2 linked regions of the Homo sapiens genome follow. The protein of the gene in region 2 purifies or fractionates together with the protein of the main gene of each other region. This does not show direct contact. Each region holds a gene or a part of one and is shown on either strand. Other genes may lie near its edges.

The links.
Region 1: the proteins of NEK11 (region 2) and FAR1 purify together in Homo sapiens (affinity purification with mass spectrometry; one large-scale study listed by BioGRID and IntAct). This does not show direct contact.

The regions. Positions count from the first base shown.
Region 1 is NC_000011.10:13,675,064-13,678,891, reverse strand, and holds part of FAR1 (fatty acyl-CoA reductase 1), read right to left. Parts: intron 1-3,828. UniProt on the Homo sapiens protein: Catalyzes the reduction of saturated and unsaturated C16 or C18 fatty acyl-CoA to fatty alcohols. It plays an essential role in the production of ether lipids/plasmalogens which synthesis requires fatty alcohols.
Region 2 is NC_000003.12:131,033,354-131,037,181, reverse strand, and holds part of NEK11 (serine/threonine-protein kinase Nek11), read right to left. Parts: intron 1,510-3,828; exon of another isoform or gene 1,370-1,509; intron 1-1,369. UniProt on the Homo sapiens protein: Protein kinase which plays an important role in the G2/M checkpoint response to DNA damage. Controls degradation of CDC25A by directly phosphorylating it on residues whose phosphorylation is required for BTRC-mediated polyubiquitination and degradation.

The sequences.
Region 1 (3,828 bases), on a different chromosome or scaffold from region 2:
TTCTGAATCTTGTTCTCAAGCCTGAACCTAAAAACAGGACTCAGTCCTCCAAGGCAGCATTTGTGGTAAATGGTGCTAGGAAACTATATGCTTTATCCCAACCAGATTAAAGATGTATATTAGCATATCAAAGATTACAAATGTCCTGAGGTAAAAAACAAAAAAAAGACCCACTAAATTCTATCTAAGCCCTGCTCTTCATAAATGTCCCAACACAGCTAGGGAAATAATGCTCATGAGAAGCTCAAGGATTACTAAACCAGCCTTCAAAAGTAATGATTTTCCAAGAAAGGGCCAAGCCTCCTGATGGACTATAAATGATTTAGAAAGCATGACCTTCGTGGCCATGCCTGTAACCCCAGCACTTTGGGAGGCCGAGGCGGGTGGATCACAAGGTCAGGAGATCGAGACCGTCCTGGCTAACACGGTGAAACCCCGTCTCTACTAAAAATACAAAAAATTAGCTGGGCATGGTGGCAGGCATCTGTAGTCCCAGCTACTCAGGAGGCTGAGGCAGGAGAATGGCATGAACCCAGGAGGCGGAGCTTGCAGTGAGCGGAGATCGCACCACTGCACTCCCTCCTGGGCGACACAGCGAGACTCAGTCTCAAAAAAAAAGAAAACATGACCTTCCTTTAATCCATAAAGCTACTTATGAATAAACTATTAAGCTAGTTACCAAGAGTTGCAAAAATGAAGACTTTACTAGAATGTACCAAAAACTTCAATTTGTATTCCACTAGTATATCCAGTTGCTGCAACTGGCAATGCTGCAAGCTCCTACCACATATGCATACTCAAAACGTAGAAGTCCGTAACTTTCAAGAGGGGCACTTGCCATCAGTGAAACTGTGTTGTCTTTAGTTGGTCTTCGTTTTCAATTGTCATTATTCTTGCCTTTTAATTAAATTACCATTAGGTTTGGCTCATCGTTATCAATTTAGTTTTTGGTTATTTTATTATAACTGTAGAGAATATATTGATACAATTCCATCACTAGGATTTGAGGCCTGCAGTTTTCTAATTAGTCTAGACTTTATGACAAGCATATTTTTTGTGATTCAATTAGGAACCATCCATATAGCTCTTCCCAAAAAATGCTTATACCTTGACAAGTGTTATTATTCCATTAGAAAGTAGAAATTATTGAGCTAAAGAATGACTCAGCCAAAAGGCTAGGACTAAAAAAGCTTGACAGGCACTGTTCTAAGGGTCCTCACTCTGGCTATGATGTCGCTAATGTACGGGCAAGTCTTAGCCCCAGCCAGCCTTTCCACATGAACCAAATGTGGCAAAAGAACTCAGAATCGGGATCAGTCATGTAAGCAGTAACTTCTTTGAACCTGGATGTCAATGATCCTTCCAGTGTCTAGTTTTGAGTGGGGAAAAAACAGCTTTTAGGAATGTATTTAAATGACTAAATCCCATAACAAACTCTCTTCTCAAAAATCTTTTCCTAGTTTATTTTTAAAACTTTGCCAAGTTCATAGACACAGCTTGCAACTAAATGCTGTTAGGCAAAGATCATCCTAGAAAGGTATAAAAAAGCATGAGGAAAATGTTTTAAGAACTGTGGATTCTTAATATCTGTTTCCAACTGTGGAATGGAATTAAGCTCCTAAAACACGCCTACCCTAATAAATCTTGTAACTATGGGTTATTATGTTAAAGATGGAAGGAGTATATGATGGCAAAGTAAAAACATTATGGTATAACATTTCAGGGAATTCTTAGCCAATTTACCAATAATCTAGTTACCATGCTAAAGTTAATATACTTCCTTCTCCAAATACTGAGATCCAGAATGAAAAGACAAACAAAATAAATAAGCACAATAGACTTACCAAAAATCAGGTAATGAGAAACAACGCTGTTGGGATTGCCATAACCAACAGACCTTAGGCAAGTCAACCTCTCTGATCACTCTTTAAATTTATTGAAGGAGAGGCCAGATCACTGATTGTTAAAATCTCTTCTGGCTTTCACAGTCTGTATTTTTACTACTATGTATTGGAATAAGTTGTTTCCTACTAGTAGATTAGGTACTTGAAAAATTATTAACTCCAACAGGTCACAAGGGTATCACTTTAAAGCAATTCACCTAATATTCACTGAACTTCGAACAGTCTGTGCACAGCTCTGTGGGGTCAAATGTCCCATTACCAGCTAATTCACCTGTTCCTATCTCCTGAGAATTCTGCTTATGCTCATAATCATTATCATAATTACATTTTAATTACAATCCACAAGTTTTTAAAACCACCTATTTCTAAGAAACTCATTTAGGGCCATTCCTCAAACTAAGTGAACTATGAGCACTTGTATCTCAGGGCTCCACTGAGAATCAATCCTTTGTCAGCCAAAAACAGTTTCTAAGCTCCTGCATTACTTCTGGTTGTTTCAACACAGATGTGAACCTCAAAATACTTTAGCAGATCCTTTCCTCCACAGATCTTAACTGCCTAAGGACACAGTAAGTCAAAGTTTTTACTTCTGGGGGAAAAAAAGGTATTTATGCATTTATTCATTCATATGTCATATATTCTACTTCCTGTTAATCCAGGATGGACAGGAGCCATAAATAAAGTACCACATGCTTATTCCAAAATCTTTAGTGAAATAATTCCTATTTATTAAACTGGCTACAGCTTGTTTTTCCCCAAGAATTCAATTAAGAATGTCTAATTTTTTAATTAGGCATTTGCAATAATAAGCTTTATCATTTTATCACTCTTAATAATTAAAAACACTTGTTTGTAAAAGGCAAGCAGAACACACAGAAAGATAATTGAGTTGAATTTTAGCAGTATGCTTTCTGCCTACACATTAAAGAATAAATTATTAAGACAGAATCCACAGACCCCCCAAGGATATTTGAACGTACATTTTTCTGATGAGATAGCACAACACTTTGAGGAGATGCTCAGAGAAGTTCATGACCTTTGACAAGCAATTTCTGCATTAGGGAATATACTTTAAGATTTTATTCTCAGAATACTTCAAAATAAGCTATAATGGTAACAATTCCCTAAATTCAAGGATTTCTCATGAATTATGCCAACATTTCTGGAAAAAATTTCATGTAAGACAAGAATGATCTAAACTAGATATTTCAAAATAATCTTAAAATTGTCAAATAGTTAACATTTAAGTTAAACACACACACACAACTGCACACCAAAGCTGATGGCACAAACCCACAAACATTCTAACAAGAATGGATCCATTAATACATGTGGTATTAAGATATTTAGAAGGCTTTTTAACAGAACGTGCCAAAAAATTAACCACGAACAGTGATATATTCACAAAGTAGTGTGTCCTAATTTCTGCTACAGCAACCGGCTTTGTTCAAGTTCTGATATAACATCTACAGTATGCCAATTACATGTTGTAGTAGTCTAAAAGATAAAGATAGAGAGATACAGATTTAGATATAACTTATTCTATAGCGCCAAAATTAGATTTCCTAACCGCACGCTTTATCCATGTGATTACCCTCACCTTATCCCTGAATGTTCTTTCTCTCTATCGCCACTTGTTTAAGTTCTACTTTCATTCTAAAATAATGTCAGTTCCCACTTAAGAGTCTCTACCACCAATTTTGGCACATGATCCAGTGTTGCTACATTCTGTTTCACATATGTACAGTCTCTTCAATTATATTATCCCTGCCCTACAGTAGCTTACTATATCTAATTTCTCGTGCCCAGAACAGTATAATGCTCAAGTCTCAAAATATATTTATATGAACAAATTTGCACCTCACTTGGATTAACATGTCTATTATTATACTTATCACACTGCATGGTAACAACTGGTTAAAAA
Region 2 (3,828 bases):
AGCTTGCATTCCTTAGTTTTTCAGTTATGCTACTGACAGGAAGAAAATGCTGAACCAGTCATCACATCAAATCGCTGAGGACGCTAAAAGGCACAATAGTCTTCTACTTCAAAGAAGGCACTAGAATCTAGATATCCAACAAGTGGCCGTTAAATGACAAGAAAGCCATAGACTATTATGCAGGTGTTAAAAATGATGCTTTTAAAGAGTATTTACTAACATGGGAAAATGCTTATATTTTCCTGCTTTAAAAAAGCATGTGAGATTGTATATACACTGAACTCTATTCCATTTTAGTGCCATTCACACTGAATGCAACTCTTCTCCCATCCCTTTGCCTAGTACAAGGATCCTCAAAATGCAGTCCTCTAAGATGTAGTAACAGCTGTTAGAAATGCAAATTGTCAGGCCCCTCCTACCAGACCTGCTAAATCAGAAACCTCTGGGGTAGGGGGGAGCCAAGCAATCTGTTTTAATAAGCTCTCCAGACAACTCTGATGCTCAACAAATTGTGAAAACCACTGGCTACTTCTTAATAATTCTTCAGATTTCAGCTCACAGTTCTCAGGGAAGCCTTGCCTCACCCAACCTTCCATCCTGCAAGCAAAGATGAGTTTATTGTACCTCACAAGAACCAAGATTTTTCTTTCACAAGTTATTGCAGCTAAAATTATTTATGATTATGTAAGTAGAGTTTTTATCTCCAGTTGAGATATTTCAAGTCTAGTGACACATATGAATCACCTGGAAGTTCTCAAAAATCCTTGGCCATACCCCAGACCAAACAGAATTCACTGGAGTATGACTCAAGCATCTGTACTTTCTAAATATTGTGATTCCACTGTTTGGCCAAGGTTAAGAATCACTGTACCAGACTCAAGCTCCAGATGACCAGTAAACGGTGACCAGTATTTGTTGAATGAATATGTGGGTTTTTTCACTTTATTTTATAGGTTTTGTTTTGTTTCAGTCTTGCACATGATACAAAATTCCAAATGCACAGAAAGGGTTCAGTGAAAAGTGAAGTCTCCTTCTCTTCCTATCTCCTCTCAGAGGCAATGACTAGGACCAATGCCATGTTTCGTTAAAAGACTGAATATTTGTCAGTGCATACAGAAAAGACCACAGGTTGGATGGCAGGATTATAGATTATTTTACTGCTTCTTTATGCACATCTGAACTTTTTATAAAGTGTATACACATTACTTTCAATATTGGGAAAGGAGGTACCCTATGAATATTTGTATGGGGGTGCATCCAGAGCTATTTAGTAGATAAACACTGGGTCTTAGGGCTCCCACAACAATAGCCACTTAGAATGTACATACAGCTGTTCCATTTTGTCAAGTTCTTAGAAGAGACCTTTTACCTGGTTTAAGCGAGTAATTGCCCAATTATTCCACCTGCTTATTTTGGTTATATTTTCACTTCTCATTAGATATACAGCTTCTCCAGAACTTCTACCAGAAAATGGTGGGAGGGTGCACAAAGGAGGAGGTACTGTTCATCCTAGGAACCAGATTAAGAAGTGGAATCATGGTTTATAGATCTATCTTGTCTTGATTTAGTTAATATAAGCTCCTCTCCAAGACTGACCATCTCTGGGTGTATGAATATGAAAAGCTGAGGCCTGGACCCCAGGGTGGTGGCTGAACCCCTGAGCCCTTTTGACTCCATGCCAGTTAGTGAGTCTGTCTCAATACAGTACTTTGGAACAGGGCTGGACGTCTGAGATTTCTATAAGTAGAAACTGGAGTATGGAGAGCTTTACAACAATGGACCCAGACTTTTTTGGCTTTTGGGGTTTTTTAATTATCTTTTTCTTACTTTCTACCTCCCTTACTCTTATGGTCTAAGACCACTCCCCTCTGTTGTCAGTATGACTCATTCTAGCATCAACTCTTGGCCCCCTATCTTCCATTTTGTTTCCATAACTGGGTAGAAAATCAGCTTGCTAGGACTTTTAAAAATCTACTCTAATGTAGACCCAAGAGCTCTCTGAGGAGGCAAGAGCCTGGACTTGAGGGCCATTTCTTTAAGGACTTGTAGGCCTTTTACTATTTAACTCCTGATCCTTATCTCAGGCAGACATATGAGATAGAGGGGGAAAAAATGCCTTCTGTAGAGATAAAGCATTTCCTTGTTACCATTTTTCCCATATTTAGACAAAGACCAAGGTGTACGATCACAGTTAAGGGGTAAAATATTTGGATACGCACTTGGATAGGACCAAGGGGAAAATACACATAAGTTAGATAGTACACAGAAACAAGTAAGATAATATTGAGTTGGAAAGGGAGTAGCCACTCCAACATCTCCGAGTGCAACCTGCCACACAGATACTTAAGCATTGTCTTGTACTGTATACTAGTTGTTTTATGTGTGTTGATATAGTCTTCCGGACTGGAAGCACCTGAAGGCTAGGCCTTATCTCCTACTGCTTCAGTTTCCTCTCTCGTGCTGAGTCCAAAGCAAAGGTCTAATATTTAAATTGTGGCCGGGCGCGGTGGCTCACGCCTGTAATCCCAGCACTTTGGGAGGCCCAGGCAAGTGGATCACAAGGTCAGGAGATCGAGACCACGGTGAAACCCCATCTCTACTAAAAATACAAAAAATTAGCCGGGTGTGGTGGCGGGCGCCTGTAGTCCCAGCTACTCGGGAGGCTGAGGCAGGAGAATGGCGTGAAGCCGGGAGGCGGAGCTTGCAGTGAGCCAAGATCGCGCCACTGCACTCCAGCCTGGGTGACAAATCGAGACTCCGACTCAAAAAAAAAAAATTTAAATTGTATTAAATACTTCATAGTTGACAGACTAAAACAGACAACAGCATAAAATCAACTCTGCATAGTAAGATCACTATATCTTAAATGTGATAAATTTTTTAAAAATCATTATAACCAACATTCTATGCTGATAAGATGAATGTTGAAATTCACTGTAGCTGTGGCCATGATTAATTACAAGTTTAATCATGTATTTTAGGGTAAACCTATTTCCTTAATATCTCTTTTCTATTAAATTACATGCACTATGCTAATGTTAAGGGCCAAAGTAATTTCTGGGCTGATCAAATCTTTTGGGTTTGATTTTTTGAAAAGATACTTTGACAATTTAACAATACTATAAAATAAAATGAATAAGAACTAGCACAATCTTTTTAGGACTATGACAACATAATTAGACTAGAGTGTCTATAATTATGAAAGAAAATATTCTCAAATATTGTTTTATGAATTTCATGATGCATAATAAAGGAAAAACCTCTATCTCATTCACCATACATTTTAACAGTTTAATTTTATTCTACTGTGATAATGAAAAAAGGGATGCCCAATATTTATGCCAGGAAGAAAACTCTCCAAACATGCATCAAGCAAGTGTAATGTCTGTACTGTAGGTTTTATTTTAATCTCACAGCTAATTCAGAAAGTGAATAAAAATGTAAAGGAATATGGTATTTACATTGTAATTAAAGGTCACCCTGTATGCAAAATGTCAATGGTAAAGTGATGCCCCCAAGTGGCATAATGATAAATTGCAATACTTTGACGGAAAAGTTAAGTACTATGTACATACAGCTGTTCCATTTTGTCAAGTTCTTTGATTAAATATAGAAATGTATATAATGAATCTGTATTTCATAGAAACTAGTCATAAGTCCTACAAACTTATTGTCATTCCTTTAACACTGATACCAAGGGATAGTCTGATACCTTCCTTATGAGCTCAAAAAGTTAAGGGTGTATCTGCAAAACAAAAAGGGAAGTCATATCTATTCTGATGTGTTGAAGGAATAGCATTCATACCATTATAGAAGTCTGTATAAAGT